Linked DNA regions of Homo sapiens: regions 1, 2 and 3 are each linked to region 4. The links come from fine-mapping of genetic effects on gene expression. A gene starts in region 4. Each other region holds a variant in brackets. All regions are shown on one strand. Distances are between the middles of the regions. Region 1 overlaps PARVG (parvin gamma). Region 2 overlaps PARVG (parvin gamma). Region 3 has its middle 13 kb from the start of LINC01656. Region 4 holds the start of PARVG (parvin gamma).

Region 1 (6,025 bases), 30 kb after region 4:
GCTGGCGGGGAGGGGTGGGACTGGTGGGGAGGAGTGAGGCTAGTGGGCGGGTGAGGCTGGCGGGGAGGGGAGGGTTTGTGGGGACGGGTGAGGCTGGCGGGGAGGGGTGAGGCTGGTGGGGAGGGCTGGGGCCTGGTGGGGAGGAGTGGGACTTGTGGGGAGGAGTGGGACTTGTGGGGAGGGGTGAGGCTGGGGAGAAGGGCAACCACAGCCCCAGGCTGCTGCTCCTCCCTGGACCCTGAAGAGGCCTCTGGGTCTGGGGTTTTCACAGTTTGACAGCTGAGGCCTTGGGGAGGGGCTTTAGATGGGGGTTAGGGGCTAGGTCATCATTGACACCCACTGGGGGCGCCTAGGCAGATGTCCTTCGGGGGAGCAAGATGGGAGCCAGGGACGCAGTGCCAGGTCAGCCCTGGGAGCTGGTGTCTGGGTGTGAGAAGGCCTTGAGGGGTCTTCCCTTCACCTAGCCTCCCATCTGCCTGCCCTTCTCAGCTCCCAATTCACAGGGCAAACCCAAGCCCATAAGCGTGTTCCACGTGAGCACTCAGATGCACCCCTCTTCATGGATACCCACCCTACTTCCCGGCTGCCTCTGGGAAACGTGCATCCTCCCACACCAGGTACCTGGAGCCCAGCTCCTTCCACCTGCTCAGGTGCCCCCTCCATTGCGATGCCCCCTCCAGCACCTCAAATCCTCTCCTGGAGCTTCTGGGGACACAGGCTCAGCCTCTCTCAGCTGGCTTCATCCCAAAAGCCTGAAATCCAGCCCCACTTCCTGGGGCCTTTGAGTCCTCACTTGCTTGGGCCCCATCCGCTGCAGGCTGGCTCTGCCTGGCTGTTCCACGTCCTCACTCTTGTTCTATTTGACAGCAATTAAAAAAAAAGTGACTTATTTAATTACTGTAGCTTTATTGAAAAATAACTTCCCAGTTTGAAGTGTACAATTTGATGAGTTTTGACAAATGCATGCAGTCATATAACCACCACCATCGTTATCCAGACATGGGACATTCCCATCACCATGCAAGTTTCTGCATCTGTCTGCAGCCAGTTCCCTTCTCCCAGCCCCTGGCCCTGGGGACCACTGATCTGTTTTCTGTCACCATCATTTAGACTTGTCTAGAATTTCTTATAAACTGTATCCTATGGTATGTTGCTTTTTGTGTCTGATTTCTTTCACTTAGCATAATGCTATTGAGAGTATCTCCATTGTTTCTTGTATCAACAACTCATGTCCTTAGTACATTCAAAAATAAGTCCTCCAATTTTGTTCTTCATTTCAAAAATTATTTTGGTTTTTCTAGGTCTTTTTAATTCTTTTGGTTTCTACATAAAATTTAGAATCAGTTTGTCATTTTCTGCAAAAAAGCCTGCTGAAATTTTGACTGGAATTGTGTTCTTTAGATCAAACTGGGGAAAACTGACATCTTAAAAATATTGGGGAGCTAAGATCACTGATTTGAGAATATTTTTCTTTTATATAAATATTTAATGCTGGATTTTTTTTTCTAAGCACAGCTTTAGCTGCATCCCACAGATACTAATATGTTGTGTTTTCACCTTCATGAAGTTCAAAATATCTTCTAGTTTCAAATGTGACTTCCTCTTTCACTCATGGGTTATTTAGAAGTGTATAATTTCCAAATATTTTGGGATTTTTTTTCCAGCTATCTTTTGGCATTGGGTTTTGTTGTGGTCAGAGAACATGCTTTGTATGATTTAAATCACTTAAAATGCATTATGACTTGTTTTATGTACTGGATTATGGTCTATCTTGGTAAATATTCTGTATGCACTTGAAAAAGAATGTGTGCTCTGCTGTTGTTGGACAAAATGTTTCATAAATGTCAATTAGGTCAAGTGGGTTGATTATGTTGTTCAGATCTTCTATATCCTTGCTAATTTTCTCTCTACTACTTCTGTCAATTACCAAGACAGAAGTGTTAAAATCTTCAACTGTAACTGTACATTTCACTATTTCCCCTTTCAGTTCTATCAATTTTTGTTTCATACCTCATATAAGATTATAATGTCCTTTTGTCTCATTTATCCCTTGTAATATCTCTTACTCTGAAATCTGCTTTGTCTGATATTAATATAGCCACTCAAACTTTCTGTTAGTATTAGCATGGTATATGTTTTTCTATATTTTTAAACTGCGTCTGTTTAAAGTAGGTTTCTTATAGACACAAATAATTGTGTCTTTTTGTACAATCTGGAAACCTCTGCCTTTTAATTAGAGGGTTTAGTCCACTTACATTTTTTATTGTGGCAAAATATACATAGCACAAAATTAACCGTTTTAGCCATTTTAAGTGTACAATTCAGTGGCATTAAGTACATTCATACTGTTGTGCAACCATCACCTCCATCCATCTCCAGAACTTTTTCATCGACCCAAACTGAGACTCTGCACCCAGGAAATACTAACTCTCCATTCTCCCCTCCCTCAGGCCATGGTAACCACTATTTCTCCCCTCCCTCAGACCACGGTAACCACTATTCTACTTGCTGTCTCTGTGAATTTGACTATTCTAGGTACCTCTAGTCCATTTACATTTAATGGAATTATTAATGCCATCTTGCTGTTTGCCTTGTTCATATGTTTTTCTTATTCCTTTTGGATTGAAGACTTTTTAGCGATGTGAATTTATTTCCATTATTGGCTTACCAACTGTATTTCGTTATTTTCATTTCCTAGGGGTTGCTCTAGACTTTATATACACATCTGCATTCATATCCTGTCATTGCTGTAACAAATTACCACAAACTTCTTGGCTTAAAACAGCAGAAATTTATTCTCCCACAATTCTGGAGGCTAGATGTCTGAAATTAAGGTGTTGGAAGGGTCACGTTCCCTCTGGAGGTTCTAGAGGGAAAGCTGTATCTTGACTCTTCAAGCTCCTGGTGGCTACCAGCATCTCTGGGCTTGTGGATGCATCACTTTAATATCTACCTTCACAGTCACTTTGCTTCTTTCTCCTTTCTCTGTCTATCCCTCCTCTGTGTCTCTCTTATAAGGGCGCTTGTCATGAGATTTAGGACCCACCTAGATAATCCACGATTATGTAATCTCAAGATCCTTAATTTAATTATATCTGCAAAAACTTTTTTCCATGATTATCTAATCTCAAGATCCTTAATTTAATTGTATCTGCAAAAACCTTTTTCCCAAAGAAGTTAACATTCACAGGTTCTGGGGATTAGCATGTGGACAAATCCTTTTGGTCACCATTTAATCTACTATAACATCTTAACTTATTACAGTCTACCTTTAAGTAATATTACTTCCATTTTACTCTTCTGTGTCCTATTGTTGTCATGTGTCTCATTTCTATAGAATAAATTTCACAATATATTATTTTTGCTTAAAAATGTCAATTGTCTTCTTTTGAGACAGGGTCTCACTCTGTCACCCAGACTGCAGTGCTCACTGCAGCCTCGACCTCCCGGGCTCAATTGATCCTCCCACCTCAGCCTTCTCAGTTGCTGGGGCTACAGGCATGCACCACCACACTTGGCTAACTTTTTTAGAATTTTTTTTTTTTTTTTTTTTGTAGAGATGAGGTCTCC[T/C]TATGTTGTCCAGGCTGGTTTCCAGCTCCTGGCCTCAAGTGATCCACTTGCCTTGGCCTCCCAGTATGCTAGGATTACAGGCATGAGTCACAGTGTCCAGCCACATCGATTGCCTTTTAAAGAGTTTTTTTTTTTTAATTGAGAAGAAAGTCTTTTATATTTACCCACATACTTATTACTCCTGGTGCTCATCGTTTCTTCTTCCATTTGGTATCATTTTCTTCCTGCCTAAAAGACTTTCTTTATCATTTTGTGTAGTGTTGGTTATATGTTAGTGAGCTTGTGTACCTACAGAAATAGATTCAGTATTGGTCCTTCCCACTCCAAACAGCTTTCCTGGCGATGCCTTCTGCTTCTAAAATTCCTGTCCCTCCTCCCTAAGGGTCACTCTCCAATCTCCACTGCAGCTCTAGCCCTGAGCTCCAGACCCACATTTCTTTCTTTTTTCTTTTCTTTTTTTTTTTGTGTGTGGTAAAATACACATAACACAAAATGTACCATCTTACTATTTTTAAGTGTATTCAGCAGTATTAAGTACATTCCTATTATTGTGCAACTGTCACCACCCTCCAACCACAAAACTCTTTGCATCTTGCAAAACTGAAACTCTGTATCCATTAAACAATAACTACCCCCATCTTCCTCCCCTAGCCCCTAGCCCCTAACAACCACTATTCTACTTTCTGACCTAATCTATATTTTGAACTTCCCAGGGCATAGCTGTGCCTGGGGTGCCCACCCCAAGCTCACCACATCCAAGTCAGAGCTTGCCCCGTTCCCTAATCTTCACTCTGGAACTTTCCAGCTGGCCTCCCTTTCGCAAGAAAGGGACTTCTTTCTTGTGACTTCACTTCTGCACCAGCAGCCAGAGTGCTTTTGTCCTCGGAACCCAGTCTCACTACCATCCTGCTCTAACCTTCCCAGGCCCCAACCTCCGGGCAGCGTCTGGACTCTGGGTGCTCTGGTGCTGCTGGCTTTGTGGTCCTCCTGCTCACTGTGTTCTGTCTCCGTCCCTGCCTCAACCTTTCCACACTGCTTCCAGTTATATCCCTGACATCTCTGCGATCTTTCCAAGTCTTTCTGATGCTGTTCCCTCTGCCCAAGATGCCCTCATCCCACCTGCCCCAGGAACTTGTCATTCAGAAAAGGAGTGGGGACATTCTTTGAGAAGAGAGTGGGGAAGAGGGTTCACCGTGGGACAAGGTGGATGCCTGGGGGCCCTGGGTGCCTGGGGGTGGGTGGAAGAAGTGGTTCCCACAAAGAAGTCTGAGACGAAGCAGGATCAGGGAGCCCTTTCCTCCCCTTATTTCACTATCCATGGCCTTCGCTCTTTTTCTCTCTTCCTCCATCCCAAGAAATCTGACTCCAGTAGAAGTTGCAGCCGAAGTTGGAAGCAGGATAATTATAGCAAGCTGAACAGGAAGGCGTCCAGGGCCAGAGAAGGAGCTGGCAGCTTGGGCTGGGTGTGCAAACAGCTTCGAAGCGAAGGGAAATGCCTCGAAGGCTGGGGTGCCTCGGAGTTGAGCTGCTTCCCAAAATAATCCAGAGGGCAGCTGTCTTGGAGTCTGAAACTGGGTCTGGCCGCCTGAGCTGCAGGAAGCCCCAGGACTCACACCAGCTCCACTCTGGGAACAGATGGAACTAAGATTTTTTTTTTTCTTTTTACCAAAGTCAGCTGGTAAGCGAACAGCTTGTCTAGAGAAAAGTGTGTTCCTGCCCCCATATCTTCTGGCAATGGATCAAAGCTGCCAGTGCCATCCCAACCCCCATCCCTGCCCCACCAGCCTTCTTTCCTTGTAAGACTTGGGCAGTGGTGAGCAGAGGGGCATCATGGACCTAGAGACACATGGGATCCCCACCCCCTGGGGGTGTAGCCCAGGGAGTGTCCTGGGCCCCTAGGTCAATGGGGGACTGGGCTGAGGGGCCTGGCTGGTAAGAAAGTAGATGATGAAGATGTTCCAGAAATGATTCTTCCAAGAAGAGTCAGCCAATGGACCTGGGCTGGCCAACAATTGCATGAATTCATTTATTTATCCACAAGCATTTCATATGGGTTGGTTTATTATTACCTAGAAAGGTGATGCATTAATACCTAGGTGGGTTTTTACAAAGGTACAAAATCATAGTGCACACACCATTCATAAGAGAACTTCTCCACCTACTGTGTGCAGGCCCAGGGCACAGAGCTGGGTATAAAGAGAGTGCTCAGACCGAGGCTCTATCCCAGAGGAGGTGTAGCCCAGGGTGGAAGGGGCTGGGTAGTGCAGTGGTTAGAGTGTGATGCTTGAGTCAGACCCTGGGGTGTGAATCCTGGGCAAATCCTCACCTCACTCTGTGACCCCAGGCAAATCACTTACCTCCCTAAGCCTCAGTTTCCTTCTATGTCAAATGGAGGCAATAAGGAATCTATTCTTCACAGGGCTATTTAAAAAGTTGAGTATCTGGAGAGCTTGAA
Region 2 (6,025 bases), 23 kb after region 4:
CCAGGATCCCGGGCAGCCAGCTTATCTCCATCCATGCCAGGGTTCCCGTGGCCTGGGGCAGGAGGACCTCTTTATCTCTCTGCAGCAGTAGCTTTTTCTAAAGAGGTGAAGCAGGAGGCAGGGCCACATGCCCCGTCCCAGGGCCAGCCTCTGGGGCTGTTTCTGGGAGAGACAAAGGCTTCCATCCCTTTCACATGCTCAGGGCGTCCTTGGCCCTGGATCAGGCCTCTTGGCCTATCTGGGGCCCAGTAGCAGGTGAGGTCCCCCCTGGACCCCTACCAGACTCCCCCTCCACCTAGGCCCTTCTTCTAGGCCGCTCCCCTTAACCTTCCTGGACACCCACCCTTGTGCCTCTCCCCTGCTTCAAGTGGAGCACCCAACTGCCAAGCCCCATCTGCCTCCCCGACCACGTCCCCTCCTCCCTTCCTGCCGACTCCCAGCCACAGCCACAGCCACAGCCACATGACCTCTGGCCCCCTTCCAGCTCTCCAGGGCCTGGTCCTCCCCCATTCCCTCACATCCACGCAGGCTGTGCTCTCAGCCCAGCCTACCCTGGCTTTGCTTCCCACCTGCTTCCCTGGGCGGGCGGCCAGCTCTGCCCACCTTCTCAGCTCCTCTGCAGTCCCTCGGCGCTCTGTGGGGCCCTGTACCACAGTCCACACTCCCTTGGGGTTAGCTCCCTGCACTTTGCCTCTCCTGGCCCTCTCCCCACTCACCCTCCCTCCTTGCCCCTGTGAGAGCGGGGCAGGGCTGCATCTCCATTTTACAGAGGGGAGCCCAGGGCCCGAGAGGCTTACCCAGTACCACCCAGCTGCTCAATGGCAGCCTCACACCAGCACAGCCTGCCGCCCGCAGCCTGCCATGTCCCTCGCCCCCACGGGGATGCATCTTGAGTGGGTGTGGCCTCCACCTTCCCTGGAGGCCAGGTGCTCTGGACTTGGTTCCCAAGAGCTGGGATGTTGGGTCAGAGCAACGAGGCCGGGGCAGTCAGTGTCTACGGTCCTGGTGGTTGTGGCAGGCACGGTGCCTGCTGCTTCCTAGGTTCTTCCATTCGGAGGAGCTGCATCAGCCAGCCATTGCCACAAACGTGCTGCTTAACAAACCACCCGAAAACCTAGGGGCTGAAAACCATGCTCATTTCTTCCCACAGACCGGCAGGTCGGCTGAGTTTAGCTGCTAGAGGCTCAGCTAGGCTTTGTCACTCCTCCGAGGACTGGATAGGGATCAGGCTGTCGTGGCTGGGTGGCTCGGCTCTGTGCCACAGCCTGCCATGTTCCTTCTGGGACCAGCAGCTGGCCCGGGCACGCTTTCCTCCTGGCAATGGCAGACACATGAGAGACCAGGCAGAAGGCATGAGGCCCTGGCTCAGAATGGGCAGGCTGCCACTTCCATCGAAGCAGGCCCTGTGGCCTTGACAGTGACATGGGACAGCCCTGCAAAGTGTGTGGGTGCAGAATTGGGCCGATGGTGGGATCTCCCACGGGCAGTGTGGACGAATGTGCTAGCAAATCCTCATGTTGGGTCTTGGAGTTAGGAACTCTTCCCATCCCCACTTCCACAGAGGAAACAGTTGAGAGAGGCACAGAAGTCTGGCCCAGAGCACACAGTGAGTTAGGGTCCTCCCTGTTTCCCTCCTGTGGAGCCAATGTGAGTCTCTGGGAGATGGAGGGGTGGCAGGGCTCAGTGGGGTTGAAGCCAAGGCTGAGACTGGGGTCAGAGCCTGCCTCGGGAAGGCAAGGCACTGAAATGTGAGCGGTGAGGAGAGAAGGCGGAGGAAGGGGGCAGGCAGGACCACCTGCGGGCTGAGGGCCTGGGGCTCGGAACCCAGCTCAGAGCCACTCTGGGGTGCCCCTGGGCTGCAGGGCCTCTGCTCAATCTGTTGCACCATCCAAGCCCCAGTTACAAGACGGGAACAAACGTGCAGACTTCCATGTTGCTGTGTGCAGCCGCTTTGCTGAATCCACTGATTTTAGAACTTACTTCTGAATATGAGTCAGATTAGATGTGGGGGAAAAGCAGCAGCCTCTTAGCTCAGACTCCAAGAATGAATTTTTACAGCATATTGTGGGCAATCTCTGCTGCAGGAATGTGTAATCAAAATGCTGAAGAGGTCGTCAGCTGAGGAGGGCGGGAACACCAGCCCTTGCTGAAGGTGGGCCTCTGCGGAATTGTTATCTTGGCAGAGTAGCCTCTTGAAATTGGATTTCTCATTATCAGACCCTCTTTGCTGATGGTGTTTATGTGAGATAGTTATTCATTGTGGGCACGGAAGTTAAGGATGGAGGGAGAGAGGATCATTCGCTCCCAGAAATAAAATCCCCGGAGCCAGGAATCCTTGGCGTCCTTCCACGTTAAATTACTTTCCCCAGGAGGATTTGCACGTATCCTCCCGGGTTGTAACCTTCTCTCAGCTCCGTGGAAGGTGGTAGTTTTATCTTCATCTCAAGCCACACGCGGAAGAAAAATCTCTGGACAGAGCATCATGAGATAGCTCTGGAGCCAGGGTCAGCTCTTACTGGGGGATGATCTTTTGTTCAGATTGAGTGTCATTGAGGAAGAGTGTGACAAACAGAAGCAGATGTCATAATTTTCAGTGTCGATAGCAATTCCCAAAGCATAAGCTCTATGAGGGCAGGAGGTCTGGTCTGTTTTGAGCACTGGTTGTATGGCTAGCACATAGTAGATGACAAGTATTTTTTTAAATAAGTGAATGAACGAAGTGTTTCCAAAACATTGGTCCCAGGAGGTGTTCTGTGACAAATGGGTTCTATGAATAAATAACTTGGGGAAACATGTCTAGTCTTGAAGGTTCATGCGGCCCACCAACACATTCAAGGCTCTAATAAGTCCTGCAGTGAAGGACTTCCATAGTATTTTATTTAATCCAACAATTTCTAAAAACGTTTGGCCACAGATATCCCCTTTCCTGTCCATCTTAGATCACAGTTTGGGAGATGCTGGCTCGCTGAATGTATCAAAGGCGGAGCTTTGAGGCAGGAGAGCACAGTGCGGAGTCTGGAACCTCAGGTTCCTCAGGGTCTTGTTCTCACTCCGACATTTACTCTCCATGTAACTGCAAATAATATTCGTGATGAGAATGCGAACAATAGCAACAATTGCAACCCTAGTTTCCCAGAATATTCCAGTCTAGGAGGAAGAACTGGGGACACAGTGATGGGAACTTCCGGTGATGCTCTGGTCTGTCCACTCGGAGCTTCCCATCCATCTTGGTCTGGACAGTCTCAGAGTTTCACCCCGCATTGGCCCCTGCAGCATGCTGCAACATTGGTGCC[G/C]TGTGATAGCCTTTGTTTCGCTCTTGTCACCCAGGATGGAGTGCAGTGGTGCAATCTTGGCTCACTGCAACCTCCGCCTCCTGGGTTCAAGCAATTCTCCTGCCTCAGCCTCCCAAGTAGCTGGGATTACAGGCACGTGCCACCACACCCAGCTAATTTTTGTATTTTTAGTAGAGACAGGGTTTCACCATGTTGGCCAGGCTGGTCTCGAACTCCTGACCTCAGGTGATCTGCCCACTTTGGCCTCTCAAAGTGCTGGGATTACAGGAATGAGCCACCGTGCCTAGCCTGTTTCTTCTTGTTGGCTGACTACAGAGGAGCGGCCCTGCTGCTGCTGCTGGGCACCCTGCCCATACACTCCTTTCCATCTGGGACCCGCCCTCCATCTTCATGTCCCCACGTGGAGAAGGACTCTGCTCACCCACTTCCAGCTCCTATGCCTTCATCATCCTCACCTTCAAATCTTGCTTTGTGGCTTCAATTCTGTGTCCGTCATCACATTGGACGCACATGGCAGCCTTGGAGAGGAAGGCAGACAGGTGTATCATCCCCGTGACACAGATGAGGCACCTGAGGCCCAGCCAGGATGTGTGACTTGTCCGAGGTCAGACACTTAGTGGCAGGGATGGGGGTGGCAGTACACAGACATCCAAGCTAGATCCCAAGAGTCCTCTTGCTCGGGCCATCCAGCAGGTGGCTGGAGGTGGCCTGGGCCAGGCTGGCGTTTCTGGATGAGTCTTGCCTGGCCTTGCTCATCCACCGCTCGGCCAACCTGGCCTCTTGGCCCCTGGCGGGTTGCCATGGGAACTGCCCTGTCCTGGTGGGGCTGGTGTGGCCAGGCAGATAGGGAGGGAACGGGACCAGCACAGCTGACCCCCGGGCTGGGATGTCCACCCCGTCTAGTGGATCTACGGGTGGCTAAGACATTGAAGGGAGGACCTGTTTGAGGTCACAGTGAACCAGGAGTTCATCCCTCTTCACCCACACCAGGCTGCTGCCCTAAGGCAAAGGGCTGGGACCTACTCTGCTTGTAGACGAGGCCCAAGGGAGAAGCTAGAATGGAAAGGGAGGGGACCTACTGTGGGAGGGCCGGCAGGCTCCTGGGCTCTCACCATATCCTGTAGCAAGGCACAGGGGAACTGTGGTGAGCCCACTTTGCAGGGGAGCAAGGGGAGGCCCTGGGCAGGGACTAAGCTGAGCTCTGAATCACTGGGGGACTTGACTGATGCCCGGGCGCTCTCCACCCTAAAGGGAGCCATCTCTGAGACTGCACCCCAGGCAAGGGGTGGCGGAAAGGACAGCCACCTGGGTGGGGACCGCTCCAGTCTCTAGCCTGCTTTGCATGAGCATTGGAGCGGACAGACCTGGTTTGAGCGCTTTCTGTCTCGTGAGCTCCAGTGAGCCCCTTGGCTCCTCTGAGCCTTGATTTCCTCACTGTGCTTTGCCCTGGGAAACAGCTGTTCTCAAAGGTGCTCTGCCACCCCAGGCCCTTGCTCCTTTCCCTGGGTAGTTCTCCCTGCCTGGCGGGACTCACCACCAGGCTTCACCTCCACCAGGAAGCCTTCCCTGATCCCTATTGGGTATCCTCCTTGGCGATTGCCTTTTTCACGGGCAGTGGCCCCTGGACGCAAGCGTGTGCCCAGTGTGGTATAGCACCTGCTCAGAGTGGGGCCTGTGAGTGGCTGAGGAATGAGACATGGATTGCTTGTGTGACAGAGTGAGCTGTAGGGAGATGCTGGATGACCACGGATTGTGGTCGTGGTCAGGGATGCCCACCTTGGATGGGAGTTTAGGCTCATGATGGACATCACAGACAACAGGAAGGGCTTGGCACTTGGGACCCAAGGCCTGGCCTGGGGCTGCTGCTTGTGCCCACATCTGATAGGGCCTTGTCATCATAGCTGCACAACGTCACCCTGGCGCTGGAGCTGCTGAAGGACGAGGGCCTGCTCAGCTGCCCTGTCAGCCCTGAAGGTGAGTGCAAGGCAGATGCCCACACGGTGGCCAGCCCTGGGTGGCAGCCTTGTGCGAGAGCCACAGAACAGGGTGCAGGGCATTGGGGGATGAGCACGCATTGGCAGAGTCCTCTTGCCTGGCAGGGGTGGAGAATGGGCGCTTGCCAAGGTTTCTTGGGAGGGGGCACTGCAGCCCCAGGGGAAGAGGTTCTGGGGAGGGGGAGACCAAGGTCTCTGGGGACAGGTTGTCCAGAGAAGCCAGACCTTGAGGAGTTGCTGTGTTGGGGGCACCACAGGAGCATTCAGAGGAGGACTGGCCAGGAGGAGGAGGCAGTCACGCAGCAGGCGCGGGACCCAGGCCTGGAGTGACCAGCTGTCCTGGCTTCCAGGGATTCTCCTGGGATTAGCACTGAAATCCTGAATGCCAGGAAACCTTGACCACATCGGGACAGTCGGTCACTGCCACCCAGGCCTGACTGGCTGCCCTGCCCTCCTTTGGCCCGCAGATATCGTGAACAAGGATGCCAAGAGCACACTGAGGGTGCTCTATGGTCTGTTCTGCAAGCACACGCAGAAGGCACACAGGGACAGGACGCCCCATGGAGCCCCGAATTGACCCTCACTGCCTCCAAAGCCCAGAGCCTGCCTGTCAGCCCAGCTGGAGGGCCCGAGGCTGCAGGGTGTCCTCCCACAGTCCCGCTGTTTCCTGTGCATTCGTGACCCGCTTCCCTCCCACCCTGTCTCCTGTCTCCATCGTTGGATTATCTTTGAACCCCC
Region 3 (6,025 bases), 280 kb after region 4:
CACTCATCCACACAGACCAGACAGAGGGGCTGCCTCAGAGAAGCAGAAGGTTCTAGGATAGAGGCCAAGCCCAAGACAAACAAGTTTTTAGGTGATGCTGGAGAAGAGAGCCCACCAGCACTGGGGAAGAAAGAACCAGGACTTCTGGTTCTCCTCTCACTCCAGGTGCACACTCCTTTGAAATCAGGGGTGACCCTATGACCTGCTCTGTCTGCAGAAGTGATGAGTCACCTCCAGGGAGAAGCATTAAGGACCACTCTGCCTACCCCTTTCCACTGTAACGGACAGGGTGGCCCCGCACTCCCGACTTGCTGCTCCGGGATGTTGGTGCTCCAGTCAGCTGGGGCAGCTGAGCCATCCCTGGGAGACTGTGGCTCTGGGGAATCACCTGCACCTGTCGTGGACTTTGCTTGGGCAGAAACACATGTTTGACTGAAGCCACTGGGACTTTGACAGTTTGTTCCTGCAGCATCGTTGAAATCAACCTGATCGATGCAAATATATTGTCAAGTTGAAATGCAGGTTTCAAAATGGCATTGATTCATCCATCAGTTATTCATTGGGCCCCCACCTTCCCACCCCATGTCTGCAATTTCCAATTCCAGATTTAGGGGAGGGGGCGTTTAGAGTCCAAATCCCTCCCCCAACACACACGTAGGAAAACGAATGTGGGGATAACAGGGCCGCACTGTGGCGATGGCGGTGAGGCAGGGAATGGCAGTCCTGGTATGCAGTAGGGCCTCGCTCAATCTCAGCTCCTTTCTGAACTTTTCCTGCCCACACACCTGTCCTCGGGCCTCATCCAGGTGTCAGGGACAAAAAGCATTTTAATAGGGCAGGTATTATCATGTGGGCCCAGGACAATTCCTCTATATTAAAATCACAACCCAAACCTCTGTGAAGGAGACTCAGGCTATGTCAGGGCAAGTGGCCATGCCTGGGGACCACAGCATCACTGCACTGCAAGCTCCGGATTCCCACAGCCTGTGAGCTCCCCATGTGACCACCACAGCACAGGCTCGGCTAATTGGGTCCATGTGATGGGAAAGATCCCATGTGACCACCAGAGCACAGTTGGTCTATGTGATGGGAAAGATTTTGCCTTCCGGTTGCGTCCAGTTTGCTTTCTGCACATTTATCAGCTCCGAGCTCGCTCCCTAGAGCCACCTTTAATTGGGTTGAGAAGGTAACATGCGGAGCCGGCTGCATGTTGGCAAAAGCGCTTCTGCTGGCCTTGGATGGGAGGCTGGGGAGTCTAGACTGTCCCTTCATGGGGGCACGTGTGTTGCTGTACCATGATACTCGGGTGTGTGGATGCCCTTCAGGGTCCCCTCGATTCCGGGACCTGAGGGTTTGTGTGTCCAACTCCTTACTGAGGAGCCACAGCTCAGGGAGGGCAGGGGAAGGCAGAGGGTGCTGCCCATCCACGACAGCAATGGGGCTGCCCCTTAGAACCTTGCTGAAGTGGCCTGAGCCCTGTCACCCTTGCTATGGGACATCCAGTGTCCTCCCCATCCCAGGCACACGGACCACAAATAACTTCCCTTTTCTTTTAAGCTAGGGTTGCATTTCTGTTGCTTGCAACCTCAAAAGTCTATGCTGGCCGATTTGCAATGACTCAAAACTTGACTGCCTTCTTGCTACCATGGTACAGGGACAAGGGCCCAAGTAACTCTGGGAGCTGTTGGCAGCTATAAGGAAACCCCACTGGGGAAAAGCCCCTGCTTGGTGAAGGATTGATATGAGAGAATTACAGAGGAACATCTGGAGCACCAATGCCATTGAGAACCTCTAAACCAAACCACACCAGGAGCCTCTCTCCTGCTGGACATCTCGGTCCTGTGAGCTAATTTCTCTTTATTATTCTTTCCCTGTACTATGATAACTTCCATCCAGATTTGATGGAAGGACTGTAAATATTCCTGGAATGAGATCTTGAACTGGGAGATGAAGGCAGTCCCTGGAAGGCTGGAAGAGATTTTGGTTGTCTTCTTTGTGTTTATATGGATGTAGGCAACTTTGAATGTTCATGGGAAGAGGAAGGATCTGTATGAACCTTGGGTAGCCAAGGGCTGTGAGGACTATAATAAATAATCGTCACCTCCTAGCATTATTCTCCCTTCCCACCGTCCCCTATGTCCGTTTCGATGTCCAAGTAAACTGGCTCTACTCTCAGTCCCAGGGCTGGAGCATGTGATCTGATCTGAACCAGTCAGTGTATTCCATCCCCTGGCCTAGTAATTGGTTCCAATTTGGGGGTGGACTGAGATTGGTCCGATAAGAGTAATACCAGCCTCTGAGGAATGACTTGGACCTGTAGTGATATTTGCATGAGACAACGAAACTCTGTCTCTCTCAAAGGATGTTAATGAGGAGGCATGCAGGCCTGGGAGCCACTGGCAGACCTCTTTGGACTCTAAAGGGAGCCAGCTTTAGGATGAATCTGATGTCATAGAAAGGAAAGTAGAGGGAAAGCAAAAAACAAAAGTAGATATTCTGTTACATCATTGAACGGCTGAGTCACACTTCACCTGAGCCTTTCGGTTTAGCAAACGAATGTCATCTTGACATTTACTTTAAAAGCCCATTTGGGTTCTTGTGGTTTCCTGTTCTTTGCAACTGAAAACATCCTGAGCAGGTGGCTACCATTATTATCCAGATTTTGAAGATAAGAAACTGTGGCACAAGAATATTAAGTGATAGGCCCAGGGCTACCGGGCTGGTAAACAGAGGTGGTAAACCCAGAACATGCAATGGTAGCCTCAACATATAACGATTGGCCACTTGCCATTTTCTTCTGCCTTTAGGAGGTTGGTCCTCTGCACTTCTGGTCTCCACTTGACACCCAGGAGGAGGTACCATCACACCCCAGGACCTGCTGTGCTGGCGTTGTGTTTCTGCCGGAGTCACCTCTGTGAGTCGCGGGAGAGCCAGTCACCTTCGTATGTGTGCACA[C/G]GCATGCACGGTCACAGAGGAACGTGCCTCCAGGGGTTTACCGTGCATGAATACCCGGACTATTTGGATGCTTTTCTTCAGGTTCTGTAGTTCTCATGGTCATGAAGCCCTCCACTAATAGCAGTTCATTTTCTTGACTTATCTTTACAAAAATAGGGTCATAGGATTTTCCCACTTTACAGGGTGAGCAAACAGAGGCTCAGATGAGAAACCTGACTTACCACTGGTGGCAGAGTGGGAAGTCAAATCAAGACATCAGTCCAGCATTTTTGACTCATCCACTCGATCATTGGTTTTTAATCTTAAGACGACCATGACCCACACTCAGGGCAGAGAGTGAAATGGAGGGAGAGAATGAAAGCTTAAATTTAGGTTTAGAAATAAGCAGTCCAGGCACAGTGGCTCATGCCTGTAATCCCAGCACTTTGGGAGACCAAGATGGGCAGATCACCTGAAGTCAGGAGTTCGAGACCAGCCTGACCAACATGGTGAAACCCCGTCTCTACTAAAAATACAAAAAAATTAGCCAGGCGTGGTGGCAGGTGCCTGTAATCCCAGCTACTCAGGAGGCTGAGGCAGGAGTATCACTTGAACCAGGGAGGCAGAGGCTGCAGTGAGCCGAGATCGCACCATTGCACTCCAGACTGGGCAACAGAGTGAGACTCTGCCTCAAAAAAATAAAATAATAAAATAAAATAAAATAATCAGCTCTCAGTCCAGGAAAAAACCCTGGCTGGAGAGGGCCTAGATGTTCTGCACCTAGAATGATGGAGCCCTAGACAGGGCTGAAACATCTGTTGCTTCCTGATGCTGTTCAACCTGCTCCTGAAGATTCAGATGAGCCTCTTTCCAGAGGCTCAGAGGGTACATACGAACAGTTTATTCCTGGGACACTGAGTTTCGAGATGCCTTCCTGTTCAAAAAGAAGGCTGGGAGTAAAGCCTGGTAGGGGAGGTGCAGATGTTGGTCGGGACCCTTCAGATAGTTGTAGAGGGGGATGCAAGCTGGAGGGGAGGTGGTGGAGGCCTCAGGGACCCGGGGAGAAGGCCTGGATGGGCAGAGACTCTGGGAAGGGCCTGGAAGCCTGTCCGCAGATGTTCCTAGAAAAGCCCCATCATCTAGTTCTCCTAGACCCCAAGCAACTTTATAGAGCACATTTTAAAAGATATCATCTTGGGCAAAAGCTCCTTTTGTTCACTAGATCTTATTGAAAGCATCCCCAAATTTTAAATTCTTCACTTTGAATGGAAATCATATAGAAATATTATCACTATGTGCACTGAGATTTGGATGACCCTAAATCATCATTTTGAAGAAAAATGCTGAAAAGGCAATTATGTTTGAGCTAAAATAACAAAATGCATTAAACGTAAGCAGAATGAGTAAAATATCCTTACCCTTTCAAAAGAGAGAGACAGAAGAAAGGGCTCTGGCCCAGCACTTAACAAATCTTGGTTCTGTTTTTTTGTCACTCATTCATTCAACTCTTCATTCCTTTTTTTTTTTTTTTTTTTTTTTTTTTGAGACAGAGTCTCGCTCTGTCGCCCAGGGTGGAGTGAAGTGCCACAATCTCGGCTCACTGCAACCCCTGCCTCCTGCGTTCAAGTGATTCTCCTGCCTCAGCCTCCTGAGTAGCTGGGATTACAGGCGCCCGCCACCACGCCTGGCTAGTTTTTGTATTTTTAGTAGAGACGGGGTTTTACCATGTTGGCCAGGCTGGTCTTGAAATCCTGACCTCAGGTGATCCTCCCATCTCAGCCTCTCAAAGTGCTAGGATTACAGGCGTGAGCCACCATGCCTGGCCTCTTAATTTAATAAGCATTTGGTGAAAGCCTGTCTTGAGTTACGTACTGGCTATAATCCACAAAGAAGCTTCAGCTCCTGACCCGAAGGAGTTTACAGTGTAAGGTGCATTCAGTCCCTCAACCAACAATTGCACCATAGGCCGTGCTCTGTAAGGGATCACAGAGTCCCCCGGCTGAACGAGTTCAGGGACAGCCTTTCCCGTGATCTGACATTTAATGCAGGACCTTAGAGATTTTCTAGAAAAAGGCAGAAGGAAGCCTGGAGGAGAGAAAAAGTGATATCTTGGAACATGCATCTATATCTGGTGTGACTGCAACCACGTGTAGTATGTGGTGTGGCGTGTGTGTGTGCATGGGTGTGTGGCGTGTGAGTGACGAGTGTGCTGTGTGTATGTCTGGTGTCTGCGTGGGGTGTGTGCATGCACGTGTGTGCATGTGTTGGCACACAGGGAGGTTAAGCATGGTGGGAGGAGGATAAGCACGGTCCGGGTGACATCGGAGACATCCCTCCTGCAGCTCAGGGAGCCCTGGGGAGCTAGTGTGCCCACTGGGAGCATCTCCCTGTGCCACCTCCTCTGGGCCCATCTGGACTGGCTCCAAGGCAGGATGGGAGGGCTGAGCTCGAGCTACCCTATCTCCCAGCTGTGGGATTTCTCTAGGCCCTGCTCCCCTCAACCTCAGGTGGCTGTCTGAGAATTCAGTTTCTAAAGACTCCATGAGCCACAGGCAAAAGCCAGGGTCCTTACTCAGTCACAGCCTGAAATTTGGCTGTCGGCCTCCAGGCTCTGGTCTCTTAGCAACCAGCCATGTGGGCCCAGGGCAGCTGCAGGGCTCTGCTCCAGGCGGGCTACACCCAGGGGCTTTGGAGTGGGTCCCCAGGCCACCTCTGGCAGCTGAGGTGTGAGGACGGCCAGGCACCGTCCCTCTAGCCTTGACCTCACTCTCCTGGTTCCACCCCCAGCCCTGCTCCTGCACCTGAGCTGGCGTAGGAGTGCTGCCACAGCTCTGCCAAGCCCTGGGCGATCGGCCCGCGGGCCCTGGTGGAAAGAGCCTCTCTGAGCAAAGCTGCTGCATTTTCTCTTCTCCATGTTCAGTGTGCCCCACATGCTCACGTCTTCCTACCAAGCCCCCAAAGGCTCCAGCTTCTGCATGAGCTCCAGGGACCGTCAGCCAGGTGCTCTATTCCCAAGGGATGAGGGCTGGTGGACCCCATGCCTGCATCTGCCCATCTTCATCCTACATATCCTTCCAGGCCCAGTTCAGAC
Region 4 (6,025 bases):
AGCCCAGGAGTTCAAAGCCGCAGTGAGCCGTGATCACACCACTGCACTCCAGTCTGACAGAGTGCACTGTTTCTATTTTTAAAAAATATATATTACTTAGTTAATATAGTGTTTATCAAATTTGTACACTAAAAAATGTAACTCTTCTTTGTAATCGATCAATATTTATGAGGAAAGAATTTTCACTTTTGGAGTTACCTTTCCATCAGGAATAACTAGAAGCCTCCACAAAACACAGGAAACAGTTACTTCAGACATTGGACATGCCTTTGCTCCCCCTTCACCTTCCACCATGACTGTGAGGCCTTCCCAGCCATGGTGGAACTGTGAGTCCATTAAACTGTCTTTCTTTATAAATTACCCAGTCTTGGGTATGTCTGTTTTAGCAGCATGGAAATGGACTAATACACATAGGAACTCTTTGTACTTTCCTGCAGCTTTTCTGTGAGTTTGAAACTATATAAAAGTAAAATGTTAAGAGGCGAGTCAGATCTGTGATCCCCAAGAAAAGGGTGGCAAGTGAGGTGAGCCCTACCCTGGTCTTGGCTTTCTGCCTGGACATAATTCCTGGACTGTGCTGTAGTGAGGGGGACCCAGACAGAGCCAGGTCTCACTGATTTAAGGAGACAAAGATCAGAGCTTGCAGAGATTACGCTTATTAAAAACAGACATCAAAAGAATATTTCTGCCAGAAAAATTCCAACACTTCTTAAAGAAATGCAACAAAATTCAGCACGCGACGACATAAAAATTTAATGTCTAGCATTCAATAAAACATTATTATAAAGAAGCAGGAAACTGTGACCCACAATCGGGAGAAAAATCAGTCCACAGAAGCAGACCAGGAAATGACAGAAGTGATAGATTCTACAGGACAACTGACCTGGATGTTTAAAAAATGTTAGTGTCGTGAAAGATTGTTCTAGATTACAGGGCTCTAAAGAGACATGAAAACCAAATGCAATCACATGTGCTGTGTGATGCCTGAATGGATCTTGGATTAAAAAAAATACAGCTGTAATAGACATTTTTTGAAGCCTTGGTGAAGTTTGAATGTGGATGAGATATTAGAAAACCTTCTATCAATGCTAATTTTCTTAGGTATCATAATGGTACTGTGTTATGCAGGAGAATGTTTTTAGGAGAAACATTCTGAAGTATTTAGAGATATCCCTAAAGTGATGTGATCCCTGCAATTTATTTATTTTTTATTAATTTTTAAAAATTTTAGTTGTGGTTAAAAATACACGTAACATAAAATGTACTGTCTTAACTATTTTTAAGTATACAGTTCAGTAGTGTTTGGCATATTTGCACAGGTATATTTCACACCGTGTCTCTGAAAAAAAAAAAGGCTGGAATAATTCCCTTCTATCCATGCCTTTCTCTTAATTGGGGTTTGGGGGTGCTTGGACTTATCTCCATGTTACTCTTCCAATTCTTAGAGTCCCTCTCTTCCCCTAAACAATGCTCTACACACAAGAGGCTTTGTGAGTTGTGGATTTAGTCTGTTGTAACTCCACACCATACAGGATTAGATTTCGCATCTGATTCTTACATCAGCCCTGCAGCCCCAAGAGATGAGAGATAGCTTTGAGGGCTATCAGAGAACTCCCTGTATTCTGCACATACCTTGAGCTGAGAATGTAAAGCCCTGGGACTGTCCTTTTCTTGCTTTAAACTCTTTGGTGTGATGATAACAAGCTCACCCCACAGTCCTTAGATAACCTGTGCTCGTATTGCGTATGGAAGCCACAACTCTGCCAAAGCCACAATTTAATAGGTACTTCGTTCTGAGTGATGACAGGTAATTATTTTGCCATCACAGGCTACGATCTATTAGAACTCCATTCTCTAACAGTTACTAGGTCCCCACTGCCTTTAAATCAACCAGAACAAGTAACCAATCCCAGTTCCCATCCTGGAGGTCGTGTTGCCTGCAATTGTTTCTGGTAACAAATCCGAAGTTAATTGGGATTCAGTTGCCGATGATTAGAGTCTCTTCAGTTGTTTGGAGGAGAAAGGAATCTAACATAGGAAGCTGTGTGATTCTCAAGCTGTTGGAAGGCTGGAGGCAGCGCCTCCAGCAAGGACTCTTGGAAGAATACTGCAGAGCTGGCTCCTGAAGGAAGCTGCCGAGTCAGGCTGGCCCTAGAAGCATGCTTTCTGGGTTGAATGCTTTAGGTTCACCTCTGCAGATCCACTCCCCACCATTTTCTCTCCTCACATCTATGGGCCGCAGCAGGGGACTTCTTTTCTCTGGCTTCTGGCTGGATGTGGGCAGGGGAGGCCCTGGCAGGAGGGAGGAGAGTGAGGCTTGGTCATTGATTCCTCCAGCTGTGCCCTTCTGCTGGTTCACCATGAGCTGGCTGTGTCCCTCTACCAAAGGCCACAGCTCCTATCCCGAGGCCCCTCTTAGAGCTTCAGTGATTCTGTTCCTGGGCTCTGCCACCCACTCCCTCCTTCACCCTCTAGGTTTTGAAGAAGTAACAGCTCCCCATGTTGCTAGCCTGGGGTGTAGCACTGTCTCTTCTGGGTTCCTTTAACCCTGCCCCAGCTGTCCCTTTATTAAACAGTCTTCAGTTAGCACATGGGAATATACCGTCTCTTTGCTGCTGGGACTGTGACTGCTGCTACATCTATGTGGCTGTGATCCAGAGTCAGAAGCCACCACCAGAACCACTGTGTCCAGAGCTGGGCTGAGCCTGCTACACACGCCCCAGCAAAATAGGTCCTGCACGGTGGCTTCTCTCCCCACCTGTTACAAGCCCCAGTCTAGCACGGGCACTTCAGAATGGCAGGGACTGACTCATGTGCCTCAGTGTCTTCCTCTGTAATATGGGGGTGATGATTGTACCTACCTCACAAGGAAGTTTCCAGTAAAATGAAAGCCCTTAAAATTATGTTTGTTTCATCACCAATGACTCCATAAATATTAGCAACAATACCAGTACTAAGTTTTGTCATTTTTTATTAACTTCTTGTAAACGACCCTACTTTCCTGCTCTCACACACTCCTTACACCTGCATCCCACCTGATTTAGCCACTTTCTGCCTAACCTGTCAGAAAGGGTAGATAGCTTCCCAGTCACCTGTTGCTAGGGAAACTCACCATTTCAGCCCGGATGGTGAAGATTCCAGCTTGAGAGACCAGCTCGGGTCTGAAGTGTTTCTCTATCTACTGTGCTGAGATCTCTCCTTCTCGAACCCTGCTATGCCTTTGCATACGCTGTTTTCTCCACCTGCCACGTTCTCACCCCTTCTTCTTCCACTGCAAACTCCTATGCAGCCGTCAAGGCCCCATTCTCCTCTGGAAAGCCTTCCCGATCCCCTTGGCAACAACCACCACCAATATTTATTCACTGAGCCCACTTTGTGCCAAGCATTGTTCTAGACACGGGTATGTAACCGCGATTGAGAGAGACAGACCACGCACAGCCTGGATTTTATTTTAAGAGCTATTGGGTGCCGTTGGTGGGTTTGAGTGAGTGGGGTCAGGAAGTGACTCACTCCTCCGAGGGCTTGTGGGAGCCTCAGCTCAGGGGCGGGCAGGGGGCGTGGGGAAGTCTGCAGCCGAGAGTCCAGGTAGGAGTCTCCTGCGTGGTCCCGGGAGAGGAAGGGGCCTGGCCCGGGGCGGGGTGTGGAGGTGGGAGGACGGCGGTGCGGGATGGAGGGTGGAGGCCAGGCTGACAGGGTGCTGGTGGTGGGTTGCGGGGGTCGACCCCAGGCTCTGGCCTATGTAGCTGCCATTTTGGAGGTGAACAGCCTGCGGGGAAACTGGCATGGTTTGGGGAAGGCGGGGAGAGGGGGAGAAATGAAAGCATTGAGTTTAAGTGGCCTGCAGAACCCCGGGGGCCCAGGCGGCACGGCGGGCGCTGGGGCTCCGGGCAGAGCTTTCTGGAGGTTTGTGGCAGCTTCACTTTCACGGCATCCACCCCCCTCGGGCCCTGCCGCAGAGAGGAGGAAGCTCCTGCCGGCTGAGCGGGCCTGGAGGAAGTGAGCAGCGGGGCTCCTGCCTCCCGGCCTGGTCCCCGAAGACCCCAGAAGAACCCGGAACTTGCTTCCATTCGGAATCCAGGGACCACCCTTTGCACTCAGTAGGCCTTTGTTTTCCTGCGTGGAAAGCGGTTGGGTGAGTTCTGGCATCGGGGCCACCATACTTGAGTGTTGGGGGTCACGGAGGGAGGGGCCCAGACACCACCTGGGAAGGATCCCAGAGTGCAGTCCCAGCCCAGGCCACCCGGGGAAGGGAGTCGGTAAAGTGGGACCTTGAGTCCCCACGGCCCCTCCGGCTGCCCCTGCTCAGAGGCTGCTCGGCGTCCTCCCTCCCTGTTCTACTGAGGAGTTGCCGCCTCTGAACTTCAGCCAACCCCTCCGTCTCCAGGTGAAGAAACTGAGGCCCTGGGGCCAGGAAGGGGCTTGCCCAGGCTGCTGATCCCTTTGGGCAGCATCGAGTCCAGGCCCTCCTTGTAACCATGCATCAGGACCAGAGAGGGCAGGGGGTTTGCCCAACGTCACACAGCCTGAGTGAGGAGGAGCTGGCCTGGGACCCAGGCTTCCTGACGCCCAGGCCAGGCTCTTTCGTTTTCTCTGGCCATGGCCCTCAGCTTGGATATTAAGGGGCTGGGAGTCAGTTGTGTCCCCACCACCTCCATGCTACAGGGCAGGATGGAGTCTGGCATCCCCCGCCCCAGGCTGGCTGCTGGTGTGACATGGGTGGCTCCAGTCGAGTGAATGCCTCCGTCTCCCACAGCTCAGGGGGCTCCCTGCTCTGGCCACCAACTTCTGCCATGTGACTCCCCTACCTCAATGTCTGATTGAGTTTGAAAACACTGAGAAGACCCAGGGGCTGAAAAGGGAGGAAGAGGGAGGCCAGAAGGCGCCAGCCGAGCCAGCGAAGCCTTCACAGGAGAGGAAGTGGGCCAGGGGAACAGGAAGGAGGGCTGGGCTGGCCTCTGGGTCTGCCCCTGTCCCGGGCATGTGGTGAGCCCAGCCTTCTGCCTGTAATGAGGAGGAGGAAGATGAACAGTGCCTCTGTCAACCCTGGCCCTTCCGGTTTATGGGATGGGAGATGTCACCATTCCACGTATCCACCTCAGCCAGCCCCACACAGGCCGACCGGGGAGGTTTCCCTTGAGCTCAACCTGACAAGCTCTGAGGAGTGAGCTGTACCTACTTTGTCCTGTCTGGGATAGGGTGGGGGGTCCCTGGGTAGGGGGCTGGGGGCTGCAGGAGCACGGTGGGCGGCCGCTCTGCACCTGCCTGAGGAAGGACCACTTCCTCCGCCAAGCCTTTGCTTGGCTGTGCCCGCCCTCAGCTTCTGTGCCTTTTTCTAACCCGTCACCCCGCAAGGGTTGGCTCAAGGGCTCTTTCTCACAGGGCCCGTACCCCCTGCCTAGGCTGGCATGCTGACGTGTCCCCAGAACCTGGCTTCTACCCTCCTTCTGTGCCTCCAGGTCTAGAGAAAATGAGGGGCTCAGTGAGTTTGGGGCTTCTCAGACCGTGACGCCCTCTCCTGCCTCCTCTGTGCAGGCTTGGGAGGCGATGGAGCCGGAGTTCTTGTACGACCTGCTGCAGCTCCCCAAGGGGGTGGAGCCCCCAGCGGAGGAGGAGCTCTCAAAAGGTGTGTGCCCACGCAGGTCTGAGGGTGGAGGGTGAAGGTCTGTGTGGCAAGAGTGAGCCTGGCCATGCCTGGGACTTGCAGCACCTTCCCAGCTGTCAGCTGAGCGCCCAATTCTGCTCACCCCTGCCTCCACCTTCTGCTTTATGCTTGACCTAACTCCTCCTCCTGGGACCTTCTACAGAGCTAGAACCTCTTCTCTCCAGATGAGAGACGGTGTGGATTACGATGGTGAATACTGATTGCTCTCATCCTGTGAGCCTTCTGAGTGCCCCTACTGCACCAGCACCTCTTACCAATAGCAACTCATTTATTCTCAAGGGCGGGCATCAGTGCCTGCTTTATACAGATGAGGAAACTGAGGCACAAGGGGTGACGTGCCACAGTAACAGGAAACTCTTAGCA

The links. PIP is the estimated chance that this variant, and not a neighbour inherited with it, causes the effect. A credible set is the group of variants that fine-mapping cannot tell apart.
Region 1: its variant is the best candidate, but not a certain one, in a credible set for the expression of PARVG in whole blood (TOPMed, PIP 0.86).
Region 2: its variant is the best candidate, but not a certain one, in a credible set for the expression of PARVG in whole blood (INTERVAL, PIP 0.65).
Region 3: its variant is the best candidate, but not a certain one, in a credible set for the expression of PARVG in T cells (TOPMed, PIP 0.56).

The regions. Positions count from the first base shown.
Region 1 is chr22:44,207,322-44,213,346 of GRCh38, forward strand. It overlaps PARVG (parvin gamma), which reads left to right. Exons shown (of 14, transcript NM_022141.7): 14 at 1-1,148. Among named protein-coding and RNA genes, the nearest start is that of PARVG, 29 kb to the left of the region's middle. The variant T/C (reference allele first, on the strand shown) is at 3,571.
Region 2 is chr22:44,200,563-44,206,587 of GRCh38, forward strand. PARVG (parvin gamma) reads left to right here. Exons shown (of 14, transcript NM_022141.7): 13 at 5,195-5,267; 14 at 5,755-6,025. The coding sequence ends at 5,864. Among named protein-coding and RNA genes, the nearest start is that of PARVG, 23 kb to the left of the region's middle. RefSeq lists enhancers at 1-694, 1,506-2,315, 3,576-4,076, 4,077-4,577. The variant G/C (reference allele first, on the strand shown) is at 3,294.
Region 3 is chr22:44,452,931-44,458,955 of GRCh38, forward strand. No RefSeq gene overlaps it. Among named protein-coding and RNA genes, the nearest start is that of LINC01656, 13 kb to the left of the region's middle. RefSeq lists an enhancer at 2,657-2,806. The variant C/G (reference allele first, on the strand shown) is at 2,956.
Region 4 is chr22:44,177,786-44,183,810 of GRCh38, forward strand. PARVG (parvin gamma) reads left to right here and starts at 3,140. Exons shown (of 14, transcript NM_022141.7): 1 at 3,140-3,400; 2 at 3,957-4,132; 3 at 5,533-5,623. The coding sequence starts at 5,545. RefSeq lists silencers at 2,401-2,450, 3,621-3,750 and enhancers at 3,127-3,857, 3,858-4,587, 4,588-5,317, 4,631-4,720.